2 separate regions of the Homo sapiens genome follow, and region 1 is linked to region 2. The links come from fine-mapping of genetic effects on gene expression. A gene starts in region 2. The other region holds a variant in brackets. All regions are shown on one strand. Distances are from middle to middle.

What was found.
Region 1: its variant is fine-mapped to the expression of ITSN2 in thyroid (GTEx, PIP 0.93).

Annotation. Positions count from the first base shown.
Region 1 is chr2:24,207,937-24,216,581 of GRCh38, reverse strand. ITSN2 (intersectin 2) reads left to right here. Exons shown (of 40, transcript NM_006277.3): 32 at 350-533; 33 at 3,834-3,932; 34 at 5,635-5,802; 35 at 6,549-6,764; 36 at 7,361-7,482; 37 at 8,263-8,345. Among named protein-coding and RNA genes, the nearest start is that of FAM228A, 37 kb to the right of the region's middle. RefSeq lists an enhancer at 1,415-1,484. The variant T/C (reference allele first, on the strand shown) is at 5,027.
Region 2 is chr2:24,355,402-24,364,046 of GRCh38, reverse strand. ITSN2 (intersectin 2) reads left to right here and starts at 3,511. Exons shown (of 40, transcript NM_006277.3): 1 at 3,511-3,743. RefSeq lists an enhancer at 3,078-3,227 and silencers at 3,328-3,627, 3,638-3,687, 3,698-4,097.

The DNA of each region.
Region 1 (8,645 bases), 150 kb after region 2:
GTCTCACTATGTTGCCCAAGCTGGTCTCGAACTCCTGGGCTCAAGCAATCCTCTTGCCTCGGCCTCCCGAAATGCTGGGATTAGAGGCATGAGCCACCGTGCCCAGCCCACCCAACTGCAGGGACTTTATTTACTTTTTTTTTCTTTGCTGACATCACACCCCGGTTGGCTTGACCAGCAGAGCTTTTGGCCCAAGCTATCTCCTCTTCCTCTTGAGTTCTCCTTCCCAGTGCCAGAGGTTCTTAGGTAGCTCACTGGTTATCATTACCATTGGTCTGCCATGGGATTCATCCTTTAATTACCTAAGTCATTCACTTAGAAACACAAAATGAGAGTGTGTTCTTGGCAGGGCTTTGCGGGTGCGGAAGAAGACCGGGGGCGAGAAGATGCCGGTGCAGATGATTGGGGACATCCTGGCCGCTGAGCTGTCCCACATGCAGGCTTACATCAGGTTCTGCAGCTGCCAGCTTAATGGAGCAGCTCTGTTACAGCAGAAGACAGATGAAGACACAGATTTCAAAGAATTTTTAAAGGTAATTCCATTCTGGGCCTTGCGGGTCAGGCTCCTTCTGAGGCTGGAGGCAACAGCACACAGTAGCCCAACAGGGAATCCCAGCAATGGAGAAGGGCATCCCCATCAGTTTCCAAAGGAAACACCAAAACGGCAGAGAATTTTCCGATTGTTTTGTGTTGCCTTTATGTAGACCTGATTTTTTCCTGGCACTGGGACCATCATTTTTTCCCCATCTGATAGCAGAGTGTTTTTTTTTAAGCATACTTACTTATCAGCTACTTTATACTCCCAAGAAACAACCAGAATGTCACTTTCTTAATTTTGTAAATTGCCTTCATTTAATACCTGCCTTATTCCAGAAAGAGTATAAAATAGCTTACTCTTTTTTTTTTTTTTTTTTTTAAACAGAATCTTGCTCTGTTGCCCAGGCTGGAATGCAGTGGTATGATCTTGGCTCACTGCAACCTCTGCCTCCCAAGTTCAAGAGATTCTCCTACCTCAGCCTCCAAAGTAGCTGGGATTACAGGCATGTGCCACCACGCCTGGCTAATTTTTGTATTTTTAGTAGAGACGGGGTTTCACCATGTTGGCCAGGTTGATTTCGAACTCCTGACCTCAGGTGATCGGCCCACCTTGGCCTCCCAAAGTGCTTGGATTACAGGTGTAAGCCACCGTGCCCGGCCCTAAAATAGCTTACTCAAATATATAAAATGCAACAAGATAAAATTTAAAATAACTAGATGAATAAACTTGGACAAAAGGAAATGAGAGTAGGAAACAAAGACGATACCAGGAATTAGGATAATATATAAAATGCATATCTGTGATCCTGTAAATATACCAGAAGTGTGCACAGATGTCATCAAAGCTTCCAGAAACTGATGAGCAGAAGAAGAAAGGATCAGTTCCGTGATGCCACGTCACAAGTTAAACATGAGAAGTAAAGCTACAGCTGTACTCAGAGAGAGAACACTGTGTATAATGTAATGAGTCAACAACATCCTTCGTACAGGTTATTATAATAGAAAGTCATATTTTGAGAAGTTATTTGCATTGATGTTGTTCAGTAGTAGAAACTATTATTATACCTGTTAAAATGGTGAGGAAATTGAAAGTAAAATCTGTTTTCTTGCTTTTTTTCATATTTCCTGTTGGGTTTTTTTGTTCATGAAATACTGCATATTGGGATATATTAAACAGCCATATCAGTACTTAAGGAGAGTATATAATTTAAATATTTTCATTATCAGAAAAGAGTAGAAAGTAAGAATAAAATATAAAGATGTTTAGGCAGAGAATAGAAATTAGAAAAGGAAAATGGAGGAAGTAATAAAGGTAAAAAGCACAAATTATATCAATATATCCAAGAACTGTTATATTGAAGAGAGGTAATAAAATGTAACTGATGAATCTAATAGAGAAAGAGGAAAAAACACAAGTAACAGAATGGATGTAAGGAGATCTCTTAAATTAAAGTGCATGTAATTCCAAAAGACATGCTAACAAATGTGAAAACATGAACAAAATTTGTAATTTTCTATTAAAACTTGAAAACTGGCTCAATAAGAATAGAAAATCTTTTAAAAATAGAAAATCTTACTATTACGATACTATACACCAAGGAGAAAATTGAGAAACTTACCCCAAAAAGGAGCTGGGTTCACTTGATGGATTTAACAGGGAATTCTCTCCAACTCTAAAGGAACAGATTATTCTATATTATACAAACTGTTACAGATCATAGGAAAAAGTAAAAAGGTCACCTAATTCATTCTATAAAGCAAAAGTAGCCATGATTCCAAGGCCTGTTTAAGTTAAAACCCACTATCATTTACAAATACAGCTGTTAAACTCTTAATTAAAGTAACAATTCATAAAATTAAGCATTACATGAAAAGAAGAGCCTATCATAACCAAATAGGATTATCTCAGGAGGCTATAGCATACTATGCTTAGAACAAGACAGGCTTCAGAATCTCGGCCCCGTCACTGTCTAATTGTGTGACCAGAGGCAAGTTATTTAACATGTGGGTGCCTTCAGTCCCCTCATCTATAAAAGGAGATTATCACACAGTACTTTTAAAGGACTTTAACTCAGAGACCAACACATTACTATTAGCATTCAATAAATGATTATCGTATTTTTCCTTACGATGATCTCAGGGATGCAAAAATGATTCAATATAAGGCAGTGAGGACAGAGCCCTTCGATTTGTGATAAGGGTAGGAGGCAGGGAGTTGCCTCGAAATGAACTGGAAGAAACATGGAAACCAAGACCATAGAATTAAACATTCATCAGAATAATGAGATAAACTGAGAATTGTTAGTATATGTGCATGTTTTAAAATAATGATGTAAATAGGATTTCAAAGTCATCACAATTGTAACAGTAGTCAAAATAAATAAAAATACTGCCTCATGAAAGGCCTGCTATAGGTTACCTTAAAAAGCAAAATCTAGCAATAAGCTGTGTTCTAAAATGTTACTTTTTAAAAAGACTCAGAAAATATGGAAATAAGAAGCACGAAGATGCTTGTGACAGCAACCTATATAGATACGGCCAAAACAAAAGGGGGGCAATTTAAATATCCAGTAGTGGGGAAATGATGAGGTGGATTACAGTGAGTGTACTTTTCAGTCATTAAAAGCTGCCATCCTAGAGCAGCAGCTGCTGTCTTCAGGCAGTGTACCAGAGCTAGGGGTAGAGGCAAGTAGGATGTGGGCCCTGGGCCTGGCGTTCACAAATCGGGTGTGGAATAGAGACACTGCAACACGATGCCTCTCCCTGTATCACCTGGTGCACATGTGGTGTATGCTAAAGGTGGCCAGGGAGGGTCATGGAAAGGAGGGAAGGTGTCCCAGGGGAGAGCCTGGACAAGGGGAAGCAGGGCCTGAGTCTTGAGGGTCAAGTGTGAATCAGCTCCGAGAAGAGAGGGCAGGGGACAGTCCCAGCACAGGTCATGGGAAAGAGCTGAGGAGCATCCGCTGGGCTTGGCACATGAGCTGAGATATTCCTACTGTGAACCTAATAGGTATCATTTTAGATCCTGAGTTATTTAAAAGAAAGTCGAAGCCCCCTCACTTTACTACAGTGCGACATATCAGTGTAGCAAAATTACACTTGTATGTTGTGAATATACACAAATTTTAAAATAAAAATAAAAAATAGAACACTCACCTAAAAAAAATTCTAAAACAGTAAGACAGGGAGAAACATAAATAAATAAAAGAAATGTGAAATCTAAAAGGCGATCAAAGACCAGTGCTTCCTGTGATCGGAGCTGTGATTTCCTCACGAGCCTCACTGTTGTTTTGCAGAAGCTGGCATCTGACCCGCGGTGTAAAGGAATGCCCCTCTCCAGCTTCCTGCTGAAACCCATGCAGAGGATCACCCGCTACCCACTGCTCATCAGAAGTGTGAGTGTGCAGGCCGGGCAGTGGGGTCTGAGTTAGGAGCAGGATGCGCTGAGGTCCACAGAGGCCAGATCCTCAGGGAGCCCTGAGCATGCCACCTCACCCTGCACACAGTGTGACACCGCACAAGTGATCCCACTGTCCCGGGGACCAGATGCCTGTGTGTGTGTGTGCACAGAAACACGCTGAATCCTTGAAGTGGGCAAATCAGAGAGGAATCCAGTATCACTTGGGTAACCTGTCACCCACCTTTCAAGAAACTCCCCAGCATCTCAAAGTCATAAGTATACTTGTCCAGGCAGGGAAAGGCCCCTCTAGGTCTCCAGTTGTGGAGCCCATCTTGAACCCAGAGAAAGACCAGAGTAACCTTAGACTCCAGTCTTTCCTCTGAGATCTGCCTCCATCCACCCTGAACACCTTTCCTAGATGTCCCAGGAGGCTCCACTTGGCACATCATAAATAGAGTTCATTTGTGTCCCTCGCTGTATTCGGCTTCAACATTCCTTCTAAAATTCCTTCCAGCTTTCTTTTTGATAAGCAATAGGGCCCTCTTGAGCCCATAAGCCTTCTAAGGAAAAGGCAGACTTTACAAAAGATTATCCCACGATTAACCATTGATTACAGTAACTTACAAAGAAAAGCAGCAGGAATATGATAAGCTTGTTACTTCTATTGATGATTCCTTGACTTTTGGTCTGTTAGCTGTGTGACCTCAACATAGACCTCATGTGATAGACGCCTGCACTAAACTGAACCATAATGCAGGTTCACAGCCCCTTCATTGAAATACTTGGGGCCAGATGTGTTTCAGAATTCGGAATGTAGCTCAAATACCATATAATATATGACTCCTCAACTGAGCCTTAGGGTAGCACTTACAACCAGACACACTAATATTCCTACAGTGGAACATAAGAACAATCACTGTAAGAGTAAGTAAATATATCTCTTCTGTTTAGGTCAGATTTTGCCACCAAATGGGTACTGAATAAAAACTTTAGGCTCTCAGGCTGTTCTGCATTTTAGAATTGTAAATGAAGGACTGTGCACTCATCTGACTAGAGTGAGAGAGTCCAGACGGGGCATCTGGTGATGGC[T/C]CCTAATTTCTGGAGGGACCACACACGTTTGTATTCTGGCCTCTGCGCGTTCACAGTTGCAGCATGCGTCGTTTGAAATCGCTTCAGAATGAACAGAATGCATTTCTTCCACATGCTGACAATGTGATTTTATTGTATTTTTCCTGTGGCATGGGAGTCATTGCTTTCATCAGATTTTTTTCAAAAGGATCAGTGACCCCAAAATTGTTATGAACCATTGCTATTCAGCAAGTTCACACTTACCACAGCTGCAGCCAGTTTATACAGGAGGGCGCACCCTTACATGGCTTAAATTTCGGAAGGAGTCGGGAGGCTCCCGCCTATTACCGGGAGCCAGTCGGAGAGCAACCAGAGACCCACACAGTTCAGAGCACTTGATCCGTTTAGCACTGTCACCTTGTCACAGCAGCGTTACCTGTCCCTGTGTCCCCAAGAACTTGTGGGAGTACGAGTTTCTCAAGGGCGGAAAGTGTCGTCTTGTTCACCGCCGCGTTTCCAGGGCATGGAAGCAGTCCATAACATGGGGTTGGAGGAGCGGTCCTGCGAAGGTCCAGGTGGGCAGGTGAGAGACGCAGCTCCCCCATGTGACACTGCCCACTCTTTTCCAGATTCTGGAGAACACCCCGGAGAGCCATGCAGACCATTCCTCCCTAAAGCTGGCCCTCGAGCGGGCAGAGGAGCTGTGCTCTCAAGTGAATGAGGGAGTTCGGGAGAAGGAAAACTCGGACCGACTGGAGTGGATCCAGGCGCACGTGCAGTGTGAAGGCCTCGCGGAGGTCAGGCCTGTGTGGTTAAGCCGTGCGCCTCCAGGGAGGCTCTGGGTGGGGAACCAGCTCCGAGCCTTCCCTCACGTGGACAGTCTGCACCTTAGGCAGCCTGCGTGGACTCACCACCCTGCCCCTGCAAAGGCATTTTTTTTTCTTTTTTTTTTTTTTTTTTTTGAGACGGAGTCTCACTCTGTTGCCCAGGCTGGAGTGCAGTGGCGAGATCATCTCGGCTCACTGCAAGCTCTGCCTCCCGGGTTGGAGCGATTCTCTGGCCTCCATCTCCCAAGTAGCTGGGACTACAGGCATCTGCTACGATGCCCAGCTAATTTTCGTATTTTTAGTAGAGCTGGGGTTTCACCATGTTGGCCAGGCTGGTCTTGAACTCCTGGCGTCAAGTGATCCTCCCGCCTCTGTCTCCCAACAGTGCTGGGATTGCAGGCATGAAGGGCATTCCTTCTTGGATTGTCATCTTCCTTTCTCCTAAGGAGAGAACACTGGGATTTTTTGTTTTGAGTTCTTTGAATTCAGCTGGTAGAATCAGTGTTCTGTGGCTAGAAGTAATGATTTTCACTGGGCCAGTTTGGACTCTGAAGAGTAATGTATTTAAGGATCTTTCATGCAAAGTGAATGATTCTAGCCACATTCCCACCTAGAAAACTCCACCACAGTATCCTCAGGCCCAGGGCACTGGCCTCTCAGGGGCACTGGATGGTTTGTGCCGGGATTTAAAAAGTGAAATTTTCTTTCTCTTTAAGCAACTTATTTTCAACTCTCTCACCAACTGCCTGGGGCCCCGGAAGCTCTTACACAGTGGGAAATTATACAAGACCAAGAGCAACAAGGAACTGCACGGATTCCTCTTCAATGACTTCCTGCTTCTTACCTACATGGTCAAGCAGTTTGCTGTTTCCTCTGGCTCTGAGAAACTTTTCAGCTCGAAGTCCAATGCTCAATTCAAAATGTATAAAACGGTGAGTATCACGCGTCTGGGGGTAGCATCAGGGGCCTAATGAGGTGTTGCCTCTATCTTAAGGCCTTCCTGGCAGACCCTGAGCTGGCCTTACGGGACCCTCCTCACCTGGTTCCAGATCGCTCGTGCTTCCTTTGCTGCTTCCCACGGGAAGGGCCCCATGCAGCTGGGCACTCCCCACCTGCCACAGGCCATCAGCCAGATTCCAGCTGAGATTCTGGCTTCCTCCTGGCCAGCGTGACACCTGGGCTCACCACTGTGTGCATTCAGCATTGGGTCTCTGTAAGCCGAGCCCCAGCACAGCACCAGCGTTGCTAGCAGAGAGCCTTTTGCACCAGCCGTCATGGGCGCTTGGAGCTCCTGTCCCCACCCAGTCCCAACACCTGACCCACCTCGATAATGACTTTTCCAGAAATGGAGGCTTCATTGTTCTTACAAATGGAGGTTTCATTTGTTCTGTGTAGAAGACCTTAGACGCTAGACCCCTTTCTCCTTCTCAACAAGGCTCTTCAGAACAAACAGAACTCTCTCTGGACATAGGCGGGTGGAGTGTTCTAGCCCATCTCACAGCCTGTGTTTTGGCCCTAATTCTTTCAGCCCATTTTCCTGAATGAAGTCTTGGTGAAACTGCCCACAGACCCTTCCAGCGATGAGCCTGTCTTCCACATTTCCCACATTGATCGGGTCTACACCCTCCGAACAGACAACATTAATGAGAGGTCAGTCCTGACCATGTGTGGCCTGCCTTGAACTCTGGGAGAAGGCCTGGACGTCTCCCTCTGCCATAAACCCATCTCCAGCCGTGCTTAAGCCCCACTAATTCTGTATCCTGAACCTCTCTTAACACATCCCCTCTGCTCCAGTCCCATGGTAGGCCTTGGTCACTGCAGCTGCCTCCTAACATGCTTCCCGGCTTCTAGTCTCTCCCCACACCACTCAGCAGCCTTCCCAAATGGCAGATCAGCACCTGAGGCCCTGCTACAGTCCCTGCAGGGGCTGCCCGCAGGCGACAGCCCACTGTGCTTTGCTGGTTTCCGAGGCCTCCTTGGGCCACAGGCCTCAGCCCTCGTCCCTCCACCTGCAGACTTTCGCCCCTCAGGCGCCCTTGTGTGGGTGCCATCCCCGCTGTTCCCAGCTTCCTTCAGGCTGCAGCTCCAACAGTGCCTCCGCGGCGCCAACCCGGGGGGTGCTGCTGCTCCTCTGTGTGCGCTAGAACCCCTCGTGACAGGTATCATCCGTGGGGCCAATGCATCATCTGTCTCCAGGTCCCAGCGCCTTGCGAGTGCCTGGCATTTTGTGGTCAGCCAAGAAGGGTCACTACCAGCTCTCATACTCCATTAGCATAAGCATCTTTCAGTTGACTAATATCAGGTCTTTGATAGGAAACTTGTGAAAGTTGAGGTTAGCAAAAGACTGAAGAACATGTGCAGAGCTCTGGGGCTCCACGCTGACCTGTGAGGGTGGGATGCGGCCAACGGCTGCCCCTGCTTCTCCCGTAGGACCGCCTGGGTGCAGAAGATCAAGGCGGCGTCTGAGCAGTACATCGACACCGAGAAGAAGAAGCGTGAGAAAGCTTACCAAGGTATCAGGGTGCCCGGAGGGTGGGACGCAGCCCCCAGGGGCCCTAGGAATGCCGGCCACTGCTCCTGCAGTCAGGCTGATGATATAGGGACGGGTCTGAAAGACCAGACCTGCTGCGGGATCAGACCAGAGAGCCCTCCCCTCTTGAAGCTACTACTGCAAACCTCCCTGGGGCTCCTGCCCACACAGACACGGGCTGGCAGTGCCAGCTCCGGGACCTCCCTCTCTGCACCACCTCTATCCCCCCCACTCCACTGCACCTTCTCCACTCCTTTCTCTCCATGACTCACCTCACCTCTGC
Region 2 (8,645 bases):
TTGTTTTGAAGGTAAAACTATAACATGAAATATGAGCTCCAGGTTCTCAGTCTTTCTACTCTATATGATAATGGTATTTATCTTATGGGATGCCTGGACTCTAGAACTGTTGCTTCTACCTATTCTATACTCTTCTTACACTGCAGGTTTGTTTTGGGGGTAAACATGGTAGAAATGGGGTACAGGATGGAATCTTTGAAAACTAACTTAAGGGGAGATTGATAGAACATAAGATACATATGGTTGAGGAGAAGGATCAATAATACATGGAAAAGAAAACAGATAGAGACTAAACGCTCCCAGGGTAAAAGCTAGGTCACCAGGAACAAGTCTAAGAATCTTGCCTAGACTGTGGCAGAACTAGAGGAAGAGAAATGTAACATGGTAGGACTTAGCTCCTCCAGGTATTTGATTTCCAGCTGGTGCCAGAAGTAAAGAAAAGATGCTGGGATTTGGAGAATACTAAGGAGGAAATGTATAGACACACTTCCAAGGCTGCCCTATGAGAAGAGGAAGTCAAGGAACTGGGATGGCGGCTGCATCATCTAAATGAATCATGAACACTGAAAGACACTAAGGATGATGAAGGTCCTGGGCGGAGAGTACTGGCTGCTCCATGTGCAGAAATTCTTGAGGAATATATTGAGTGCCCTGGAAGATGGTAAATGATAAGGATGAGGATAGAGGATGGGTGTAGCTAGTGTTATAAGCCTCATAGGAGAAGGGGCTTTTGCATGTGAGTGGAAAACTAGGATCTGGATGCAGTCGAGGAGCAAGGAAAATGTTTCTTCAGCCACTTCCAAGGTCTGTGCTTCCCTCCTGTATTCCATTCTTTATCTTGTTGAATAGAACTACCATTACCCAAAAACCCAAGAACCCTTTACTCCTTCTCATTCCTTATATCCAACCACCAAATGCTTAATATTGCCCAAATTTATCCCTGAATCACACAGGGTGGGAGGTATGTGTGAGAGAGAAGATAGATAACTGGAGGTGCTTGCATTTTGGGCTGTGATAGAGTAGGACAGGATGGACAAACTGGCCTCAAAGTTCTGAAGGGAACTCTGGGATACAGTTGTTTTAGTACTTGGGATACTGTAGGCATGCATTCAGGACCCTGATTTCCAGCAGAGGTTGTTAGTTTTTTGGTTTATTTTAGGGGGGCTTTAAATTTTTTTTTATTCCTTTATAAGCATCTCTTTCTACAAATTCCATTTTTGTCCTGCCAAGGATTTGGCACCTCCTTTAGAAGGAAAGGAGACTCAGGGTAAATTGCACCAGGTCTAGAACCCGAAAACACAAATGACATTGGTCAAAGGATGGGAGAAAAATGAAGACTAGCTATGTGCCTAACAGGAATAAAAAATAGGTTTTACCTCTCAGACCAACTCTCTGGAGCACTATGTTGTGAAGGATTCTGGGGCTTTGACTCTCAAATATGGGCTCCAAAAGAGCATATCAGTTAACTGGTGAAGGGTGCAATGGGAATGAGGCCACGTGCTCAAGATTGCTATCCTTGGCCTGGGTGGTTTGTTTGCAGATAAGGACAGATTGGCTGGTCCCCAGCAAGTGAGGGGCCTCCTAGACTGATAAAAGAGTCAGGCTTCTCTGTGTCACTGAAGCTCAGGACCTGTCTGTCAGGTCTTGGTCAGGTTCTAATCGAAGAGTTAGGAAAAACACTGAGTGTGAGAGCGGGAAAAGCCTGTTTATCATCATCGATGTTTGGTAAATTCCTCCTAAGCTGGCTGGCCAGTTCAGATAGGCCTGGGTTTGGAGCCATCTCACCTTCACCTGCCTCAACAGGTAAGGAATGAAAGGATGCCAGGGGTTATTTGATCTACACAGATCAAATCAAGGGATATGAGTTTTGGACCCCAGACCAGCCCTCACCCTGCTTCTAAAAGCCAAAATAAATCTTGGGTCTTGGCCGGGCGTGGTGGCTCACGCCAATCCCAGCACTTTGGGAGGATGAGGCGGGTGGATCACCTGAGGTCAGGAGTTTGAGACCAGCCTGGCCAACATGGTGAAACCAGTGTCTACTAAAAATACAAAAATTAGCCGGGCGTGGTGGCAAGTGCCTGTAATCCCAGGTACTTGGAAGGCTGAGGCAGGAGAATTGCTTGAACCTGGGAGGCGGAGGTTGCAGTGAGCACAGATCTCACAGTTGCGCCACTGCACTCCAGCCTGGGCAACGGAGTGAGAGTCTGTCTCAGGAAAAAAAAAAAAAAAAAAAAAAAAAAAAAAAGAAATCTTGGGTCTTATATCCAAAAATCTTGAGTCTTACATTTGGTTACTTTTTTTTTTTTGAGACAGAGTTTCGCTCTTGTCGCCCAGGCTGGAGTACAGTGGTGCAATCTCTGCTCACTGCAACCTCCGCCTCCCAGGTTCAAGCGATTCTCCTGCCTCAGCCTTCCGAGTAGCTGGGACTACAGGCGCCCGCCACCACGCCCAGCTAATTTTTGTATTGTTAGAAGAGGCGGGGTTTCACCATGTTGGCCAGGCTGGTCTCCAACTCCTGACCTCAGATGATCCACCTGCCTCGGCCTCCCAAAGTGCCGGGGTTACAAGCGTGAGCCACTGTGCCAGGCCGACATTTGGTTACGTTCATTAGGAAACACTAACTCCTCCCTCACCCCAATCAAAAGAAAGCCTTTCCCCTTGAAGAAGCTTCTTGTCAAGGGCAAACCTTTGGGGTTTTGGGATACGGTGGCGGCTTGAGTTGAAGTCTGGTCTTTTGTGAGGAGACCAGGAACCGGGAGGGGAGAAAAGAGACAAATTCTGAGTAGGAGCTTCGCCTGTCCCTTGGCGAGGGGTGGGGAGGAAAGTTTAGCTTCGTCGTGCTATGCTCTATGGGGACAGAGTCTTCCTACTGCTCGGCGGAGTGTGACTAGCGTAGAGGGTGCTCCTCGTGGGCGCTCCGCGTGTGTTATGGAGGAGGGCGAGGAATGGTGAATGGATGACCGAGGGTATGGTTAAGTCCTCCAGGTCCCTGAGAAGGGTTCAAGAGGCCTGTAACAGACCCATGGGCAAGGGTGGGATCAACCTCCTTCCCACCTTCCACCCCCCAATTCCCAGAGAATTCGTTCCCCCAGATCAGTGGAGAAAACTTCGGCGAGTGAGAAGGTTCCAGGGAGAACCCCGTGGTGGGTGCAACAGGGATGTGGCAGGCACTGCTTGGGACTTTCCAAAACCCCGGCGTCTGCCGTGGCAGGAAAAGCACCACCCAAGCTCAGCATGTTACCTCGGGGAGGAGGAGCCAGGTGGGTCTGTGCAACTCCAGGAAGGGCTGCCAGGTCTGGGGCTTCGGGGCCTCCCCGAGGGCAGAGAGGAGCGCTTCGGACCCGACCGACTCGGAGCAGACCTTCAGGGTTCAATGCCCCGGAACTCCTGGGGCGAGGAGCCACGCCCGGGCAGTTTCGGGCTCCGGAGGGTGGGGAGTCGGTGCCCGGCAGCGGGCGGGCCGTCAGCTGCCCGGCCCGGCGCCTACCTCCCCGCCCCCCGGCTTCCTGCGGAGGCCGCGGCCGCCATGTTGTTGTGGGGCTGAGGCGGCGCCGGCGGAGCCCTGAGCGGCTGTGACAGGCTACGCAACAGGTTCGCGGGCGGCGGCCTGACGACCAAGCCAGCTGCAGTGGCGGCGACGGCGGCAGAGCAGGGTCTCCCCGCGCCTGCCCGCGCCCAGGCTGCCGGTGCTGAGGGACGCGGAGTCGCGCTGTGACGAGCGGGAGGCGCGGCGAGGGCGCCAGGTGGGTGAAGCCGCTAGCGGGGCTGCAGCAAGGCGCGGGGCAGGTGCGGGCGCCGCGCCCGCTGCCCGGAGGCTCTGCGGGTCGGGCTGAGGCGGCTGTGCGCTCCGCACGATGGGGACGGGTCCTCGGGAGTACGGGCGGCCCCCGAGCTAGGCCCCTGGCGGGCTCGGCCGTGCGGGGCGGAAACCTCCGGCCCCGGGTTCCTTCCTCTGCTGCCGGGCCGGGACAGACGCCGAGGGGGCCTGGGCTGGGCTGCCCCTTCCTTGCGGCCGAGCCCGGGTCCCTGGCCGCGGCCTCGTCTGGCAGGTGGCGGACGCCGGCGAGGGTCGGGGGTGGCGTGGCCCCCTCGCTTTCGGGGTGTGAGCAGAAGAGAGCTCTGGGGGCACCCGCACGCCTCCTCGGGGACCCATTTTATTTTCGCGGAGTTGGTTTTCCTTCCTGGCAAGGGTTGGTGCCGAATGTCAGGTGAGCCGCATCCCGGTGCGTCAAAGTAGCCCGAGTCACGAGAGGACAGTGGGCGGATGCTTGGCGTCTACCGCTCGCGTTCCTCCGGAGTTGGAAATGTTAAATTTACCTTCAGCGTTATTGACTTCCAGAATATACAGGAAGCACCGAGAGATGTAATCTCTCAGGCCAGATAAAGTTTATTTGTGTATTTATTTATTTATTTTTAAAGACGTCTGCATATGCATAGTGAGTGGGTAAACCGAGGCTGAAACTGCAGATGGCTTTGTATTCTATAGAAAGATGCTCCGTTTGGATTTATTAATTATGCGCCTTGTCGCTCTAGAATTACCAATGGCAAGTGTGCTTTATTTGAAACTTGTGTTAATACTGAAATAGGAATATTTTTTGATGGAGCCAACCCCTTTACGATAGGAATTAAGGTTAGCATAGAAATGACTTGCTTTGCTCCATGCTTCTAGTTTGTCTCACTAGTGTTTGCTTGCTTACTCAGAAATAGGCAAGGTGTGACTTGAAATTTTACGTTGTTAGTGAGCTCAGTTTAGGTAGCATAGCTCTTGTAGTTTAAAGCTTCTTAAGCGTTTCGAAAAATTGCCTCTCTCCCTGTGCTGGTTTGCTATATTGTTAATCAGTGATAAAACCTAAAAGCTACCTAGAAACATCGCATAAAACATTTACGCGAATTAATAATGACGTCCTTCCAAATTTAAAGATACTGACAACTCTGATGTGTTTTCCTTTAGCTTTTTTTGGCTGTGCCTGTGACTCTCTTGTAATTTCAAAAGTAAATAAAGTGGATGTATTTTATGTTTTTGAAAACGTGGAAAAAATGTGCATTGCTGCTATTTTGATGTAATATTAATAAGCAGTTGAAAAGCTTGCATTTTTTCACCCTTCCATGCATTGATAACTATTCCCTGTGCCCACCTTTGTAATGAAAGGTAAACTCGTCCAAGAAAACTTGACCTGTACAGAATTACTAAGCAGGGAGTTACCATTGTTCGGTACATCTCAAGGCTAAAATCTTGATCTCTCCTGAATATGAGGAGGTGTGTTAGGCATGTTTTGGGGATTGGATTAATAGTGTTAAAAAATTTGTATTTTCACAAAAATAGCATGTACCCATCACCCAAACTCAGCAGCTTTCAAGAAGCTTTTCTTTTTTTCTTTCTTATTTTAAAAAATCCTTTAACCTTATGTAGTTAGTATATCTTTTTTAAAAAGTAGAAAATCATGTAACCTTAGGATTTTTAGTTTTAATGTAGAGTTTCACAAATTTCCATCTTTAGTAAGACAAAAGGGTCACATATTGGCTGTCTCCTTCAACTATACTTTCTTCAGTATAAAATATGTTTACCATGGTTGTCATTTATCGAGCACGTAACTGCATGTTAGACTCTATGCTAAGTGTTTTACATAATCATTTAAAGCTCACTAAGGCCCTAGGAGTAATTATTATCTTCCCATCAAAAAGGTAAGTGAAATGTTAACCTGAAGTTTGACTACTTTAGGTCTCTGAGCTAGTAAGTACAATAGCCAGGTTTCAAACCAAGATCCTTTTAACTGCAGCACCTGTGCCTTATCTGGTAGAGTCATCTTGGTTCATACATTTAAAAAAGAGTTATCTATGTGCCGGGTGCCCTGGCTCATGCCTGTAATCCCAGCACTTTGGGAGGCCGAGGAGGGCGGATCACCAGGTCAGGAGTTTGAGACTGACCAATAAGGTGAAATCCTGTCTCTACTAAAAAATACAAAAAATTAGCCTGGCATGGTGGCGTGCGCCTGTAGTCCCAGGTACTCAGGAGGCTGAGGCAGGAGAATCGTTGAACCCGGGAGGCGGAGGTTGCAGTGAACCGAGATCGCACCACTGCACTCCAGCCTAGGCGACAGAGTGAGACTCCGTCTCAAACAAAAAAAAGAAAAAAAAAGTTATATGGGCATTCAGTAAAAAATATGTGTTTAGTGAATGAGTGAAAGTACATATTAGTCCATTAAGTAGCATTTTTACATATTGTATTTACTTGTAAAACATTTATATTAACAAGTTCCAGAAATGATTCAGAATAAACGAGTTACATTACCAAAAATGTGATATATTTATTACCATCTAACGGTGCATTTTCTTTTTCTTTTTTTGGATTCAAGTTTTTTTAGTACCTTTTTTATTTATGGAAAAAATTTGTGAAAAAACTGTTTTTGAAGAAAGGCAGACTTTCTTGTGTGCCGATTTTTTTTTATTTCTTACAAAAAAAACAGGATATATGTGCAGAACGTACAGGTTTGTTACATAGGTATACGTGCACCGTGGTGGTTTGCTGCACCTATTCACCCGTCCTCTAAGTCCCCTTCCCTCATTGCCCCCCCACAACAGGTCCTGGTGTGTGTTGTTCCCCTCTGTGTCCATGTGTTCTCAATGTTCAACTCCCACTTATGAGTGAGAACATAGGGTGTTTGATTTTCTGTTCCTGTGTTAGTTTGCTGAGGATGATGGCTTCCAGTTTCGTCCATGTCCCTGCAAAGGACATGATCTCATTCCTTTTTATGGCTGCATAGTATTCCATGGTGTATGTATATCACATTTTCTTTATCCAGTCTATCATTGACGGGCATTTGGGTTGGTTTGGTGTCTTTGCTATTGTAAATAGTGCTGTAGTAAACATACGTGTGCATGTGTCTTTAGAGTAGAATGATTTCTATTCCTTTGGGTATATACCCATTAATGAGATTGCTGGGTCAAATGATATTTCTGGTTCTAGATCCTTGAGGAATTGCCATACTATCTTCCACTATGGTTGAACCAATTTACATTCCCAGCAACAGTGTAAAAGCGTTCCATTTCGCCACAGACTTGCCAGCATCTATTGTTTTCCTGACTTTTTAATAATCACCATTCTGACTGGCATGAAATGGTATCTCATTGTGTTTTTTTTTTTTTGAGACGGAGTCTCACTCTTGTTGCCCAGTCTGGAGTGCAATGGCGCGATCCCAACTCACTGCAACCTCCGCCTCCTGGGTTCAAGTGATTCTTCTGCCTCAGCCTCCTGAGTAGCTGGGATTACAGACGCCTGCCACCACGCCCTGCCAATTTTTGTCTTTTTAGTAGAGACATGTTGGCCAGGCTGGTCTAGAACTCCCAACCTCAGATGAGCCACCCGCCTTGGCCTCCCAAAGTGCTGGGATTACAGGCTTGAGCCACTGCACCCGGCCATCATTGTGGTTTTGATTTGCAGTTCTCTGATGATCAGTGATGTTGAGCCTTTTTTCATGTTTGTTGGCCTCAAAAATGTCTTCTTTTGAGAAGTGTCTATTCATATCCTTTGCCCACTTTTTGGTGGGGTTTTTTTTTTCTTGTAGATATGTTTAAGTTCCTTGTAAATTCTGGATATTAGACCTTTGTCAGATGGATAGATTGCAAAAATTTTCTCCCGTTCTGTGGGTTGCCTGTTCACTCTGATGATAGTTTCTTTTTTTCTTTCTTTTTTTTTTTTTTTTTGAGACAGGGTCTTGCTCTGTCTCCCAGGCTGGAGTGCCGTGGTGCCATCTTGGCTCACCACAATCTCTGCCTACCAGGTTCACCTCCCAAGTAGCTGGGATTATAGGCATGTGCCACCACGTCCAGCTATTTTTTTTTTTTTTGAGATGGAGTCTCGCTCTTGTCCCCCAGGCTGGAGTGCAATGGTGCGATCTTGGCTCACTGCAACCTCAGCCTCCGGGGTTCAAGTGTGATTCTCCTGCCTCAGCCTCCTGAGTAGCTGGGATTACAGGCGCCTGCCACCATGCCCAGCTAATTTTTGTATTTTTAGTAGAGATGGGGTTTCACCATGTCCAGGCTGGTCTCAAATTCCTGACCTCAGGTGATCCACCCGCCTCGGCCTCCCAAAGTGCTGGGATTACAGATGTGAGCCACTATGCCTGGCCTTTTTGTAATTTTTTAAAAATAGAGACAGGGTTTCACCATGCAGGCCAGGCTGGTCTGGAATTCCTGACCTCAGGTGATCCTCCCACCTCGGCCTCCTATAGTGCTGGGATTATAGGCATGAGCCACTGCACCCAGCCTGATGATAGTTTCTTTTGCTGTGCAGAAGCTCTTTAGTTTAATTAGATCCTATTTGTCAATTTTGGCTTTTGTTGCAATTGCTTTTGGCATTTTTGTCATGAAGTCTTTGCCCATGCCTATGTCCTGAATGGTATTGCCTAGGTTTTCTTCTAGGGTTTTATGGTTTTGGATTTTATATTTAAGTCTTTAATTCATCTCAAGTTAATTTTTGTATAAGGTGTAAGGAAGTGGTCCAGTTTCAGTTTTCTGCATATGGCTAGCCAATTTTCCCAGCACCATTTACAGAATAGGAGATCCTTTCCCCATTGCTTGTTTTTGTCTTGTTTGTTGAAGATCAGATGGTTGTAGATGTGTGGTGTTATTTCTGAGGTCTCTGTTCT